Regions from separate parts of the Homo sapiens genome. Here region 2 is linked to region 1. The links come from fine-mapping of genetic effects on plasma protein levels. A gene starts in region 1. The other region holds a variant in brackets. All regions are shown on one strand. Distances are from middle to middle.

Region 1 (8,343 bases):
AGATGGGGTTTCACCATGTTAGCCAGGATGGTCTCGATCTCCTGACCTCGTGATCCGTCTGCCTCGGCCTCCCAAAGTGCTGGGATTACAGGCGTGAGCCACCGCTCCTGGCCCCAAGATATATTTTTTCAAGGAAGAAAAGCAAAGAGATAATGAAAACATGCTCAAGAGTCTTAACATAATCAAACATGATATGAAACACATATCATATCATGTTTGAAATGCACATTGAGTTTGTCAACTGAAGTTTCACAGAATCCCACTGGGAATTTCCCTGGAGGAAAATTAACCTTTAATTATTAAACTGTTTTTGGATGCCACTGGCATCATCTAAGAAAATATCAATTCCTTCAAAACACACAAATATGTGTTGATATAATGCCAAACTCGTATGTACACACACACACAGAGGCAAACACACAAATACATATATAATTCCACATCACATTGATGCATTAAACTTTTTGTGAAAATTATTTTACGTGTTAAATTATGTTAAATTATGGGTAGCAGCTACTGTGTTTAGACAGCTTAGAAGTCCAGAAGTAGAAGGAACAGTTGGAAAATAATCAGACGAATCCAGCTGACTGACATATCTATCATGGAAACAAAAAAAAAATGCACTACAATAGGAAGTGGCTGTCTTTATTTTTCAAACTAATATTGTTCTTTGATGAGCTACAGAGTGCATTTGTTTAAGCAGTTGTTGGAAAGCAGACCCTGCATGGTAGACTGGAAAGAACATTGGACTAGAACTGGGAAAATCAGCCATGTGACCTTGTTAAGATAGGGACATTCGTTTTCTATAGCCTCAGTTTCCTCATCTGTAAAATGGCCATAAAAATTCCAATTCTGCTTATTTCATAAAGATGATGTGATCAACTCCCTCACTTCACACATGAGGAAACTCTCTTGAGGTCATATAGCTAATTGGTGACAGTATCAGGACTCAACATAAAAGTCTTTTGAAGACTTGGACTTTCTGTAGTAACAAAGCTGCCATTGAAGCAACAGATAGGAAAGTGCTTTGAAAAATGTCACATAAGGGTTTTGTTCAGTAGAAGTAATAGGACTATATCTGCCAAAGTCATTTTGTGGCAATTAATTAGGAAATGCCTTTTGAGACTGTACCTGTACCTTCAGATACAACCATCTTTATTTTAAAATCAAATACACTCTATTTCATTTCTCAACAATGACACTAGAAGTAAACAATTAACTGAATTAATTCAAACACTGAAGTGGATTTTCAAGGACTTGACTTGCCCAAGCTAGTTTTCTACAAAGCCTAAATTAATCAGATAATTGCTAATTCTCCCCTTTGTTTTGTGCTGAGGAGAGCCTGTATTTGTTAAAATGATCCTAGTAGCAGGATAAACAGTCATTTTAAAAATTTTAAAATCCAAATCTGAACTAAATGAGCAAGTTTCAGACACACTATTTCTTTAGGCACCATCTCCAGTCATTGTTTTAAAAGGCTAATTTTCTTTATCTGAATGTGAACATTAATACCACTTTTGTGATTAAAAGGAAGATTTTAAGCAAACAAATTAAAAAAAAATCAAACTAAACCGATATTGCAGGATATTGTGAACATGATTTGTTGTACTCTTAGAAAAAAAAAGCAAATGCCTCTCCTGGCATGACTAAAAACAGCAGTTAAATCTTTAAGATTAAGTTATTAATGACACACTTTAAAAATATAATCAGTTTAGCATGGCTTTAAATAACCTCCACTTAACAACTAGCAAAGTTTTAAAATTAAATAAACAATGCTAATTACCCTTCTAGTATCAAGAGGAAAGTGTAGAAAGTAATTTAATTAATTGGCTGTGAAAAATTAATTACTTATGAAATGAGACTCATTAGACCTTTCCTGTTTCATCAGAATTTCAGACTAAAGGATAACTGGTCTTATCACTTATGGTTTCTTTATGGTTCAGCTAGCATCAAATAGACTTGTGATAATAATTAAATATTTTGCCCAGATAAATTTAGGACTAGAACATTAAAAAAAAAAACATCGCGAACAAAGTAACAGTGTTACTTTTCCATTGTATTTAGTTTTTATATTTCACTGTAAAGATTTTACTGTGTGTGTGTGTGAGCGTGAGTGTGTGTGTATCATGAACTGACAAAAAAATAACAGTTAACTTTCAAATTCGGTACAGCAATATAATTTGGTTTTGTCATGTTGGGCATTAGCTAAAGTGAAAATGTGACTAAGATACTTTATGTAACATAATAACTGTTGATTACTCAGATAGTTTTCATAAACAGTTGGCAAATTTTGACTTAAAACAGCTGTCACTATAAATGTAAAGTAAATGTTAATTTAGGAATATTAACCTTGTGAATGTTTCTGTAAATAAGGCTTATGCTATTTCCAAAGGTTATAGAAAATCACTGGAGTATTTTTAGCCAAACTTAGTGCAACTTTATCCTCACTGTTTTTAAATTCTTCAGTTTTACACATAAAAGTCTTTAATCATACTTGATGGTTTTTCAGTGATTCCCTTGAGTGTACAAACTGCATAAGGAAGTGTATTTGATAGATTTACATCTTGGAAGTGAGAGAATAAATAAACTAAAGAAACAGTATTGCCAGAGATACATTTTACTCTTTTATATAAGAAAACAAAGAAAGCATTTTCAACAAGCAAAGTTGCACTGACTGTTTACTAAATAAGGTAACCTGTAAATACTTAGAGCAATTATAGCTCACAGATCTCAGGGGTTGAAGTACCAGTTGCATGCTAAAGTGAGCGCTGTTCTGTTTTGTCCTGTTTGTACAACTCATTTCCAAGTAAAATTTGTATGACAGACTGCAAACCCTCTTGTACAAACTACTAAAAATTACATCAAGTTCCATAGTTACTCTGATACACACATTCAGCATCATGTAGTATTCAGCTGTATAAATGCTTTCTAAAAAATTAATTAAAACCATTCTTTTCTCAGAACACATGCGAAAAATGCAGTGAAAGCTATAACAAAGCTTAAAACAGAGTACCTGCAACATGCTGAGCTCTTTGCAGTACTTACCCGTTCAGCAACTTAGTTTCTCCTGGCAGCACTTCTGTGCCAAATGCTTCTACCTTCCCAAAAATGTATGTCAGCACAAGCCCAGACGAAACTTCAAATCCAGGAAAATAAAATTAACCATGCAGATCAAAGGCAGACGAGCAGGGAGATGAAATGCCTGTAATCTGATCAGTGAATCAGTTGCTGAACATCAAAGGCAGGGCTGAGTTTATATATATGCATGGATATCAAAGAAAGTTCACTTTCAGCAGGTAGTTACCCTCCCACCTCCTAGTCCACAGACTCTTTTGTTAAACATGGATCACGTTGTTTTCCTCCTCTTTTTTGCAATGAGGCAATGCTGGTAGTTCTCCCATGCTTGGGCTGAGTGGCTGGATCTGTAGCTTTTTTGGTTCCCAAGCTGTGTTGTGGACTGTGTGTTGGAAGCTTTTCCTAGTGCCAGCGGGTTCTGCTTTATCCCTTTCATCTCGCTGAACTGCAGATCCCATGACATCATTCAGCGCCGTGGGACTGGTAGGAGAGCTATAATTCAGCCTGTGGGGGAGTATAGCTCAAGAGAAGCCAGAGTTTGGCTGATTTCTAATCATGTTAGACTATTGTGCCTCACACAGGACAGTTTCTGTTATCTGTCTGCCAGCTGGAAAGGACAGCAACTGCTGCTGGATGCTTCTTGGGTGATAAGATCCCTGATGGATGGACGTGCCAAATGACAGCATTTAATTGCCTCTTCGCTGATAAAAATCACAATTTCCTACAGAGACTGGGTGTCAAATATTCAGCATAGTTAAATAGCACTATGAGACCACTCTAAAAAACACCCAAGGACACTGCCAGATGGACCGATAACATTTTCACATTTTGATTCCAGTTTTCAAAGTGACAAGTCTTTAAGGATTTTAAGGAAACTGCCCTTTCTTTGAAACATACATTATTAGGATCTGATTACCAATCAAACCGGGTTGTGTTAAGTAGTTAAGCAGCAGATAACCAACAATTCATGAATAAACTGCCATCTTCCACTGGCTCACTTAAGACTTTGGGCGGAGACTTAATCTCAATCTTTGCCTTAGTTCGGGACTCTGGAAATTAGATTTTAAAGCAATATCTACTTCTTAGACATATTTCATTAATACTTGTTGAGCATTTTAAAATTCACAAAAGAAGAATTATGTAGAACAAAGCATTTGCCCTGTGATTATTCCAAAGCCATGTTATTTGCCTTTTAGGGCTGTTTCTTCCGAACTCATAGTTTGGACTTTCAACTCACTAAAAAATTACCACCTTAGCCTAATTCTTCGTATTTTAAAATTAAATATATTGCTCATTATTTAAAAATTTTAAGCTATTTTCCTTAACAATGTCAGATTCAATACAATATGATTATTTTATTTTGAGTATTTAGTAAAATAGAAGATAAGAAGAAGTTTCATCTTCCTTGAAATCCAGGATATGGTGCTTTTCTGATTTTCAGACAGTTCTTTCATGGAATGAAGACAATTTTTCTATTTTATAATGGAAACTCACTAACTTTTAGAAAGTAAGTTAAAAATATTTTTGCAAAACTTAGGGGATAGTAGAACTCAGTCTTTTTCAATGTAACTTCCCTCCTTAACTGGTTTTGTCTAATTTTTCCTGACGCGATATTTGAAAACGTTATTTATGAAGTGTTTATTTCCAGATTTCTATGATTCTTGAATAATTTTAATAGCAAAATATTTAGTTTGAACTGTTCATAAGTTCTGTATAACATTTAAATAGTCCTGTTGATTTTTCCATGTTTCTTGTATAATTTTTCTACTTATACATCATTTCTCAAAAATGCACAGGGCTCAAATAGTATTTGAACTGGCAGGTGTGATGCTTAAGGACTTCCTTAAAGCAGACCAGGAAAATTCCTGTGACATCTGGGCTTCACATACGTTTCCTGGGCATCTTGAACCCATGAATACAAAGAAAATATTTACAAAGACAAAATATTTACAAGAAGGCATGTGCCCATTTCTTTTCTGAGGTAGTCCAAACCTACCACCAGCATGGAATCCATATGCCAACAGCCTGCACTCAGGATTAAAGTTTCCCGATACACTGATATATTAAATCAGAGCAACTAGACACTCTGTAAGGCTCATTGGCTAAGCAAGTAGATTTTATGTCTTTATAGATTTCAACACCAGTAGAAATAGGTGAAGGACTGAATTCGGGTTCTTGTGTTCCACTGAAAAACATACAGGAGGCACTTGAAAGCAGGGACTTGAATGAAAACCAATCAAATGATCTTCAATTTATACAAATCTCCCCAAGCAAGCTTTGTAGTTCAAGATACATCCAACAATGCAATACCATCTCCAGTGGAAGAGTTTATTCACCAAGTCACTGGATATTATTTTGAATTGGTCCTCTTGTGGCCAAGAACTCCCCATATGTGAGATGAAAGGGGACTGAGGCTAGGGCCCCATCTGTCGCCTGGACCAGAGTGTGGCTAAAGGTCGGCCTGGCTGCAGGAGTGACCTCTTGACCTGCGGCTCATTTAGCACTGTGCCCAGCCAGCCGAGCCCCCTTCGTTGTGAGGTGTGGCCTGCACCATTGTTGTTTCTGAACAGCACCAGGAAGGGGAGCTACTACAAAGCTTTTCTCTTTCCCCTTCAAGAAGCTTAGATTAGTGTGATTAAATCAGTGTGATACAGTGGTGATAAGAGATCCAGCACTCCACTCGACATCATTGTCCGTTGTCATGACACCAAGTTACAGCATTTGATCAATGGTTCCTGTGCCATGTTGCAGTACACTTGGCTCATCTTAGTCTTTTTGTCAAGCTGCCTTTCAGCGACCTGGTTCTGCAAAGTGGTTGTGGCAGCCATTGGATCCACAGTGGGGAGCTCCAGGCTACACTTTAAAAGAAGTGGTCAGTGTTTGAGATGACGGGCATGCCAGTTACCCTGATCTGATCACTATACCTTATAGGTATAGAAATGTCACTAGGTGCCCAGGGATATGTATAATTATTATTAATCAGTTAAAAAATAAAATAAATGATTGAGAAAACTTCAGTTGTTCATATCCAAGAAGGGAGGGGCTGCCTGAGATTCCTGATGGGGAGTGGGGTCTCATGTCACCCCCAGTCGCCACCATGTGCTATTTTCTTCCCAAAACTTGGAGCGTGGTTCCTTTGCTCCTTTATCTTGACAGGTGGATGCCATGAATTCTCACCATTTTAAGATATAGATCAGGTGATAACACATTTTCCCCATAAAGTTTCATAGTTTTTTGAGTTGTCTGCATGTCTTTTCTAATGCCGTCTTTTCTAACTTTTCTGTTCAGAGGATATATCCTGGATTAGATCAGATAAACACAGATCTATTACATACATTGAGAGGAATAATTTCTGCATTTGTTTCAACTGAACACTTTTTAGAAAATGAAATAGCTCATGGTTATGAAAAGAACACGGATGCTGGAGTCAGAAAGGCCTATGTTCAAATCCCTCTTACTACCTGTACTTGAATAACAGCTTAGGCAGTGTGGACGAAGGCTACCTAGTCCCACTGAGCTTTTTAATCCTAAGCTGCAGGAAGGGGATAACACCTACCTCATTAGTGTTGCCAAAATAACAAACTTATTTCGAAAGCATCAGGCAGAATAAACCCTCAACAGAAGAGCTAAGGTTCCTTTCTTTTCTCTGTAACTATTAAAATGCCAACATTTTAGCTAGGGGATCCAATTCAAACTTCAGTATTCTAAAGGGGCAGGACAGGCTCTCACACAGCTCCTGGGCTGGTTATTCAAAGCCAAGGTAGCCCAGACATCCTCAGGTCCTTCACAATGCTGGGACCACTTGTACATGATCTGGGACCAGTAGCTGCTATCTGGGACTGTGGTCCACATAATCACAGAAAGAAAAAGGCTCAAGCCTGTTATGGGTTGGATTGTATCCCCCTAAATTCCCATGTTGATGTCTTGTCTCCCAGCACCTCAAAACATGAGCTTATCTGGAGATAGGGTCTTTACAGGGGTAATCAAGTTCAAATGTGGTCATTAGGGTGGGCCCCAACCCAGAATGACTGATGTCCCCATAAAAAGGGAGATTTAGATAAAGAGGCAGACACTCATATAGGTAGAACACTGTGTGGACATGAGGATGACCATCTACAAGCCAGGGTAAGAGGCCGGGAACAGACCTGTCCCTCACAGCCTCAGAAGGAACCAACCCTGCTGATACCTTGATCTCTGACTTCCAGCCCCCAGAACTGTGCGAGGACATACTGCTGCTGTTGAAGTCTGTGGTACTTTGTTATCACAGCCTCAAGAAACTAATACAAAGCCACTATCCAACAAACTACAAAGAGGTACAACTCCCATTTTCCTACATATTCTGAAGCCTTACATTCTCCTCATCAGCATCTGCCTCCTACAAAGCACCCCCAGCTCCAGTGGACACCCCCTGCCCTTCTGGACTCCCTCCGACCTCGTGAGCAGAAGACGCCTTCCTTTTCTTAAAGGGCCAGTTCAGGGGTACTGTTCAGTGAAGCTGAGTATGACTGAAAGTCACTAAAGGTAACTGGGATAGAACCCAGTTTCTGGCTACTGTAAATAAAGCTGCCATGAACACTTCATGAACCTGAAAGAGCCAATCCTTCCAAATGGATCCTGAGTGGCTAACTGGGTCTAAATTCAGAATGGAGCCAGGTCACAAACGTCTTCTGCATTCTCTGAGAAACCACAGGCTCGCGTGATTTGGGGACTTTCATGGCTGTCTGCTCCTATTTATGCTCCCTGATTTGATGGGTGCTGGGAAGTCTCATCTTGACTTCTGGATCTAACAAATAGACTTGTGACTTGCATTGACCAATCAAAACCAAACATACTTGCATCCCTCTCACTTGCAGAGCAGACCAGAGTGGGAATCTGGGTGGGAGCTTTTTCTATAAAGGATAACCTGTCTCTCTGTTCTCAGGGAGAGCATCTTTGTTTTGTACTGAAGGCTGGGTCTCCCTGGTTTGCAAACTGCTTACAGGAATAAAATCATTCTCTTTTTTAAGGAAGATCCTTTTCAGTGGATTTGTTGATAATACTTGTGTACAAGTCTTAGTGTGGATATATATTTTCATTTTTGTTAAGTAAATATGTAGGAGTAGAATTTCTGGATTATATGGTGTATGTATGTTTAACTTCAAAAGAAACTGCTGGCTGGGCGTGGTGGCTCATGCCTGTAATCCCAGCACTTTGGGAGGCCGAGGTGGGTGGATCACAAGGTCAGGAGATCAAGACCATCCTGGCTGGCACGGTGAAACCCCGTCTCTA
Region 2 (8,343 bases), 41 kb before region 1:
ATTACTTATCCACAGGAAGCGGCTGAAGGACTACACACTGTTGGTAACACCTGTTGTCGGTCTTTGTGATGGTTTCTATAGAACACTCATCATTAACAAAAAACAGACAGTGGCTTAAGAGCAAGAAGGGCACCCATGCAGGCAGCAGGCTGGGCATGCCCACAAATGCAGACTGGATGCTGCAGAGGAAGAAAGGCTTGCAAGAAACCTCAGTTTCCTCATTTGTAAACCCTGGATGCTAAAATGCAAGTCCCACCTAGTTCAACATTCCCATTTTTTCTGTAAAATTTACATATTTTAATTTCTTCATCCATATTTGTATACGAAATCAACTAAGCAGTACTTATTGGCCAAAAATTAAATGAAAACCAACTTGAAGGATAGTGCTGCCTGTACTTAATAAACTACTCAACAAAGGATTCGGAGGAATCACTTCCATCTAGATTTTTACTAATTAACTCATTCACATTTTGGGTGAGTGATACTTTCTTTCCTCCTTTCAATTACTCTGCCTGTCTTTCAAACGTACATCGGGAGTGTGCACAACAAAGAAGTGAGGAGAAAAGGGTGGAAGGTCAGCCTCCTCCTCACTCCTGAGAGCTCCAGCCACACAATGTTCTATATCAGAGGCACAGAGAGGAGGGGGGAGACAAACAACACTTGATTTAAAGAACTGATTAACAAGTTAGAATTTCTTTAAAATTGTTAACAGGGATTATCTCTTTCAGAGGAGGGGAAGATTAGAATTACGGGGTGGTCTCAAGTTTTACAGTTCTGCAAAATGTAATTTTTGCAAAAAGCATCCATTACTCTTGTAATAGGAAAACAATAAAGATGCATATTCAAGGAGAATTTCTCTGGACATGTGCTGGGTCTTTGCGGGGTGATCATTGTGACTCTGGCTCTGGGCTGGGACAGCTGTGTTTTTGCTGAGCACTTTGGTTGCTGGGAGAGCTGTGTGCAGGCACAGGCTTTCTGAAGTATAGGAGAGAGCCTCCCACTCCCAAAGTCCCTTGGGATCAAGGCACAGGTGCACGTGACCTTCTGGGGGTGGTCTCCACCTTGTTCCCAAGCTAGGGTTCTCCACAGCAAAGGTTCAGGAAAGAGCAGAGTATTTCAAAATCACACTTTGATCCAGGCAGCTTGAGGTTGTAAGAGTCTCATGTACGAGTTAAAACACAACAAAGGAAAAGAAGAAGGAGGAGAAGTACAAGGGAAAGAGAAAGGAGAATGCAGAGAAAGAGGTGCATTAACTGGAAATAAATGTCCTTGGAAATTCTGTTTCAAGCCAGGTCAACATAGGAGAAAAGTATGTATTTTCCTACATTGGATCTAAAGAGACATGAGTTTGAATGCCAGCTCTGCCACTTGTTGGCCAAGTTATTTTGGGAATTCTCCGATCCTCAGTCTCTTCATCTGTGAGATGGGGATAAGAATACCTGCCCTAAAGGTTGTGTGAGGAATAAATGGGAATGCATATAAAGTGCTCAACTCTAAATCAAGCACGGAGTGCACATTTCCTAAACAAATTATACCTATAAGTGTTAGGATTTTGGATTTTCTACAATCCAATAAATAAACCAACTTTGCTGATTCAAGAATCATAAAGCTTCCCTGGAAATAAGGGGATCATCAGACCCCAATTTCCATCTAAGACATTTTTATTGACTAAGAATCTTTCAAAAAGAAATCATAATTTTCTTAATTAAAACAAGTTTAGTGGAACACAAACTCTAATTCAACCCTATCTGAGTCAACTGCTGCACCGTGCTATAAGAGCCCTGCGTTCCTGCCAGTCAGTCATTCAACTGTGGCTCCCTGTCCTGCTGACTGTCTCCAAGTCACCTCCTCCCTCCACTGAGAAACTGTACAAGTAATCCAATGGACTAAAAGTTTTGAGTGTCACAACTCTTTTGAAAATGAACATACAACTTAATGTGGTGGAGGTCTTTGTGGTTATTTTTTGGCAAAATAATAAAATTCATTGATCATATCCCAAATACTCATGGGAACTTTCATAAAGACTGTTTATTTGGGAAATTTTACTTAAAATAGATTTTCTCTAAAGTATTTACTATTTTCAAAAATGTAATATTTTTAAAGCCTAATATTAATTTGAAACTATTAAAAAATAGCCTGCAGTTCATAAAAGTCTAAGAAATTGATGAAGTGACCATTCTACACATTGAATTAACTAGAAACCATGAAATAACTAGAAATTCAAAGAAGGTGATTCCAAGAAATTAAATTACAGTATGGTGTCCATGACAGCAACTGCTTTTTGAGTTGACTGTCATATTTCTAATGCACCTTAAACACAGACTCTGTAATTACTCATAATCCAGGCTATAAAGTAAACTACATATAAATACTAAATTACCCCCAATATAAATGTCTGCTTTGATGTTTTCATTTCATTCAGTAAAGCTGGGTGGTTAAAATGCCTTGAAATCTTCCCCATTAAGTTCAATAAATAATTACCAAGAACAAAAGAAAGAGGGAAAACAGCTGAAAGGGAAGCTCGACAGCCTCCAACCCATGGTGACATTGGTTAGCACAGATTGACACTGCCTTCACAAACTTGTGTCACCACCCTGGCCGAGATCATTTCTTTTCTTTTTATCATTCGTATACTGAAAAACTATTACACACATGAGATTTAACAAAAATAATCAAACAGTACACCTTTCTTCCCATCCCTGCTCCTTAACTTCCCACTCCCCCAACACAGGTATTGGGGTGACCTGCCAAAAATATCCTCCTAGCGTGAGTGCATGTATTTAACACTGTTCTGCAACTAGATTTGTTTTCCCATGCCATACATCTTGGACAGTGCTCCATATCAGCAAATAGAGAGTATTCCCTTGCATGGATAGAGCTGGAGCTGTTCTTACTCACCACTGCACCCCAAGTCCTGGCACAGAGAGGGTATCCATTTAGGTTTGGCCCACTGCATTTGTATTGATCAGATGACCTAACCATGCAGCAAATGAAAATAGTATCAAATCTTTTTTGTTTTTTCCCCCATAGGGATAGAAAGAAGTAATTTCCCTAGGTATATTATTTCCTGCTGCAGGCAGACAAGTAAGCAAATAAATAATGAAATGAGCTATGTTTGAGTTTAGCCTTTTGACAAGGACTCTCTCCTTGACCAAACTCTAGATAGGTTCTTAGGAGCCACTCTCTGTTGGGCCCTGTCCTCAAGAGCCCAGTTTCCCAAAAACCTGGCTAAATCTGGCCATGCTCAGTATCTTCTCAGGTTCCTCAACCCTCACCATCTCCCAGGTGATGCCTGGTCACCCTGGCCTGTCTTCAGCAAGAATCCTGTGAGGTCATTTTAGCCAGAATCTCCCTCACCTCTGACGGTTCCTCTTCATGATTTTCCATCCACCAAACCCAGCCTGCTCCTTGGCTATATATCCCCACTTGCCTGTGCTGTATTTGGAGTGGAGCCCAGTTCTACACTGAGCTTTCATTTCCTCTACTGCAACAGTCCTGAGTAAAATCTGCTGTTCCACTGTCCAGTTCTGGGTTTTCTTTGACACTTTCCAAGTTGCACTAGAGTTGTCCCTCCCATCATGGCAAGAGAAGGAGTGTGTGTGTGTGTGTGTGTGTGTG[C/TGC]ACATGTGTGTGTGTGTCTGGTGAGGGGAGGGCAAGGAGGGTATAGGCAGAGTATGTCCATCTTTAGCCTGGGCTTCAGGATAAGGGATATGTGATTATGTTTATGGAGCATGGTCCGCCATTAATATCAATGGTAGAAATGCATTTCTGTTTTAAAATACCCCGTAGTCTGTATTCTTGAAATTATGACCTGGTACCTTAAAAGCTTGAAGGAAGTACGCAGTACTTCCCCGAATCCTTGAGAAGACATTTTTTATCAATAAACTTTAAGATGGGAAAATATATGCATAGATAAAATAATAATGCAAAAAAAGGCATTATTATAGGGCCCCTACTTACTTCCTAAAATCATATGAGAAGTGAACAACCCATGGTATCCAATGCCTCCCTCCACCTCTCCTTCCCAAAAGCCTGGTATCTAACAGGCCGGTGAATAATAAATAAATGCCTGCTGATAAACAAACGGATGAACAAATATTGTTTAAGGTAGTATTTCCTAAATACTTTAAAAAAATCCTAGGGAGCAATAGCTTGTAACGGCCCCAGCAAGGGCTCCCATGTGGTGAGGCCATATAGTCCTCCTGGGCTGCAGGATGGCAGGCAGGGTGGGCTGGGCTGGGGATGTCTGGGTGGAGTGGGGTCAGCAGCTTTCCTTATCTTGGTCCCAAGGGAGCAGAGGGCTGGGTTCAGCTGGGCTACTTCCACCCAAGCTGTAGCTCTGTCACTCTGCCCAATATTTTTAAGCCACATTTGGTGGTTTTCCAGTAGCAAAATGACTCAAAGTAAACAGTCCCCAAATCCCCTTCTCTCTTTTCTCCTTCTGCAAATCCAGCCTTTAACAAAAACATAAGCGGGTCCTACCTACAGGTTGGAGGAGCAGCTCTTCAGACCACAGGGGAAAACTCACAGACCCTTGTTGTCCAGGAAACACATTCTGGGCCTTGGGTTGAAAGCACTATTTATTTGTACAGCCAGTGCGTTATTAACTGCAGTCCTTTGAACTTTCAAAGTTAAATGTTAAATTTTAAATGTGGATGGAGAAGTTATTTGAAGGGAGAATCTAGGGCATGCAAATGCAAATGACAAATTAGATTTATGTTGCTGGTGCTTAGAAATCAACTTTTAACTTCCTTTAATGAAACAACATTGAAGAGATATTTCCCCTCAACTTTCAGTTTCTAAAAGGCTGTGCTTGAGTTTTTTAGAGAAAACTGACAAGCAAGGGCTCGTTAATATCTTACAACCATCCCTAGGCTAGATCAGCTATAATTAAACATAAATAAAGTGAGCAACACTGTCATTAAATGGCAGAAATGAATCTCATTTTTTATGCTTACAAATTAATTTTTTTAAAACTTTCCTCATAGAGACAAAAACAGTTTTCAAAAATGTAAACATCTTCAGAAATATGAAGCTGGGTATGCCCCGTGCGGAGGAAAGTATGTTGTTGTTTACAAGAGTTAATTTTTTCACATTAACTAAAGTCCTCCCAATAATTGGTTAGAAAAGTTTACTTTGAAAACTGTGCCAGAGACTTGAAGCCTGTTTCAAGTGGTTCATGCAAAAACTAGTTTCCTGATTTACTGCTGCGAGGCGATCGTGTTACAAGCACACTGTTGGCATTAATACGAGTGAGGAGGATGGGCTGGGGCTGGGCGAATTCTAGGCAGTAAGAATTAAAAGTCTAATGTGGTTACTTCAGGAAAACAAAAATCATCCTCTCCCACATATCCCAAAGTTAGGTTTATTTTTGGGAGCTGAAAGGATGCCTGATGGCCGAGTAACCCTCACCATATTTATGGTTCAGAATGCCCAGCAGGTACTACTTATGGGGCGCCCAGAACAAGCTTTTGTATTTTTTGACTCTGAAATAGGAAAAATATTCTGAATTATCTTTCTCATACACTTTCAAAATCGAAATCCTGTAGTGGAGGAGAGATAGGGTAAATATGGCTCAATGGGATAAAATCCTCAGACTCCACATGGCTCAGCGACCTGTCATATATTTTCCTAAAAATGCAGGAAAGATAACTATGTATTAAGCAAAATTTCTAAAAAAGAACTGAATGGGAAGAGATGCTGCTTGGGGCTTACAGGGAAGGAAGCAAAGGAACTAGCGAGAGGCGCCTGCTCAGAACGCCCAGGGCAACAGCATCTGGCATGAGGAGCATGGAGGACCGGAAACAGATGGGTCGGGAACTGGTGGCAAGGTCGAGCGTAGCTCAGAGGAAGAAGGACAGGAAGAAGGCTGACCAGCAAGGCAGCTCCCGCAGTGCATGTGCGTTAGGTCAATATGATTCTGGTATCTCCTTGTTTTACAGGCTGGTCCCATGCCAGAATTACTGGAAGAAAGTTAATCATTCTAGAGCTGTACTGTCCAATACAATAGCCAGACCCCATGTGGCCTCATTTAATTTTCATCAATTAAAATGAAATAAAATTCTGTAAGTGTTCAGTAACCGCAGTGGCTAGTTGCTCGTATACTGGATAGAGCAGATAGAGACCACTTCCACCATCACAGACAGTTCTATCAGAGAGAATTGCACTAGGCTATTTACAAAACGAGCAAGAGATTGCTACTCCCACGTGGCTCCACCACTCCTTCCTCCCGCACTGTTACTTACTAGCAGTGACAATGGACAAATCAGTGAACCACTGTGTCCCAGTTTCCCTGTCCATAAGATGGGGATGGTTATATTCCCTATTTAAAACATATGTTGTAAGGATTCCATTATTTAATATACAAAGATCACATAGTACCTGGCTTACTGTATGAAAAATTAGCTAATATTATCTTAGTTGCATAATATGTATTACAAGAGATAGCTCATATTTATGTTAACAGATGTCGTTTACATGAACATAGCCCAAGATATCCAAGGTAAACAGTTAAAATAAGAATCTTTTAAAAGTGGCCAAGGAAGAGAAGGGTATCATCAATCTAAGTCAGCAACAGTATCGGTGGACCTGGAGCTGCTGTGCAGACTTCTTAATACCTAATAATTGAAAGGAAGTGAAAAGAGGCTGGGACCTACTGACCACACACCACTGGTGGGTCAAGGTGTAGACTGTATCCAGGAATACGATTCCAGAAGCCCCAGCCAGCCCTGACTACACATTTTTATGGTAGAAACCTAACTAACAATGGAAGAGATGCTCAGATACCTTGGGAAAAAATAGAATTGAATGCCTTCCAAAGAAAATAATAATTAGGAGAAATAAAACCGCAGAGGAAAGTTTAACTATACCTGCTTAACCAAAGCACTTCCAGGCTTTAGTTTTAAGGCACAGGTACATGTTTGTAATTGAAAGAACCTCATGACCCAGAGTGCGTTATTTTAGACAGATGGACTGGAGGACAGAAAATGTCAGAAGTTTTAAGATACCTTTAATACAGAGAAGCAAATAACATAACAATGTTACAATAAAAGTTATTTGAAAATGCTAATGGCCTACTAAAAAATGTACTTTTTACCCACAATATAAAAAAATCTTTTGTTGTATATATCAATAGTTTGGTCTAGCTTTTCTTCTTTTTCATAATTAACTTTAAAAAGTTTTATGTTTACTCTGCTTTCAAAATTTCAAATACCATAGGTAACCAAAATTCTAAGCCTCAGTCAAAAAGGGCCCTGAGACTTGTTTAATTACAAATTAAAAGGTATCCCTCCAAACTGTCTATCTATTTATCTATTTATTTATTTCTCACTTTGTCACCCAGACTTGAGTGCGGTGGTGCAATCTCGGCTCACCACAACTCTGCCTCCCAGACTCAAGCGATTCTCCTGCCTCAGCCTCCTGAGTAGCTGGGATTAAAGGCGCCCACCACCACACCTGGCTAATTTTTGTATTTTTAGTACAGATGGGGTTTCACCATGTTGGCCAGGCTAGTCTGGAACTCCTGACCTCAGGCAATCCACCTGCCTCGGCCTCCCAAAGTGCTGGGATTACAGATGTGAGCCACTGTGCCTGGCCCAAACTATACATTTAATATCTCAAGCTTTAAAAAAGATTATTTATAAACGTAGTTGTCTGAAAAAAAATTTAAAGCTTAGTCTTAGTCAAAAGACTAAATTTTCCCTTGATTTGTAAAGCTTGGAAGTGAAAATTAGCCAGTTAAATGTAATTTTAATTTCAGTGATTTATCTGACTTTAATATCCTCATAACTTATTTTTCTTTCCTCTGAAAGACATATGCTGTTGCAAAAGGAACAATGAAAAGAAGAAATCACAAATTCATGAATGGACAATTTAAAAACATCTAACATTAAAGTAACTGCTTATAAAAAGCTCAAGCTCTCTGAGTTAAGTGGGGTGGAAAATAAAAATATATTTATGTTTTCATTTGTGTATCTGAATCCTTTGCCTCTCTGTTGTATGTTAGAGCATGAGCAAAGTTAAGTTGCTGATTTTATTTATTATGAGCTAAAACTAAGAAAAAAGACTTGGCAAAATATATGATTTATAACATATACACAAATTCATTCATTTTTATATTACCAGATTTAAGTGTCACTTTTTTTTCCAAGTAATATTTGAGATTAACTGATTTGTTCACTCATGTACTGTGTCAGGAGCTGGGTGCTCTGTAGATACAGGGTAGAAGACTGAACAACATGGGCTTCCAGGTGGACAGCTCAGGGCAGGCATGTGGTAACATGGTATACAACTGTGCACCTGAGTGGGTCCTAAGAATCTCATTTTTCACTGGCATTATTACCTTTA

Evidence for each region. A credible set is the group of variants that fine-mapping cannot tell apart. PIP is the posterior inclusion probability: the model's chance that the variant is causal. Protein levels are from the aptamer-based SomaScan assay of Sun 2018.
Region 2: its variant is the best candidate, but not a certain one, in a credible set for the plasma level of the TNFRSF19 protein (Sun 2018, PIP 0.87).

Annotation. Positions count from the first base shown.
Region 1 is chr13:23,565,551-23,573,893 of GRCh38, reverse strand. TNFRSF19 (TNF receptor superfamily member 19) reads right to left here and starts at 3,482. Exons shown (of 10, transcript NM_148957.4): 1 at 3,046-3,482. RefSeq lists enhancers at 5,047-5,558, 5,559-6,071.
Region 2 is chr13:23,606,402-23,614,744 of GRCh38, reverse strand. All of the region lies in intron 3 of TNFRSF19 (TNF receptor superfamily member 19), which reads right to left. Among named protein-coding and RNA genes, the nearest start is that of TNFRSF19, 40 kb to the right of the region's middle. The variant C/TGC (reference allele first, on the strand shown) is at 3,619.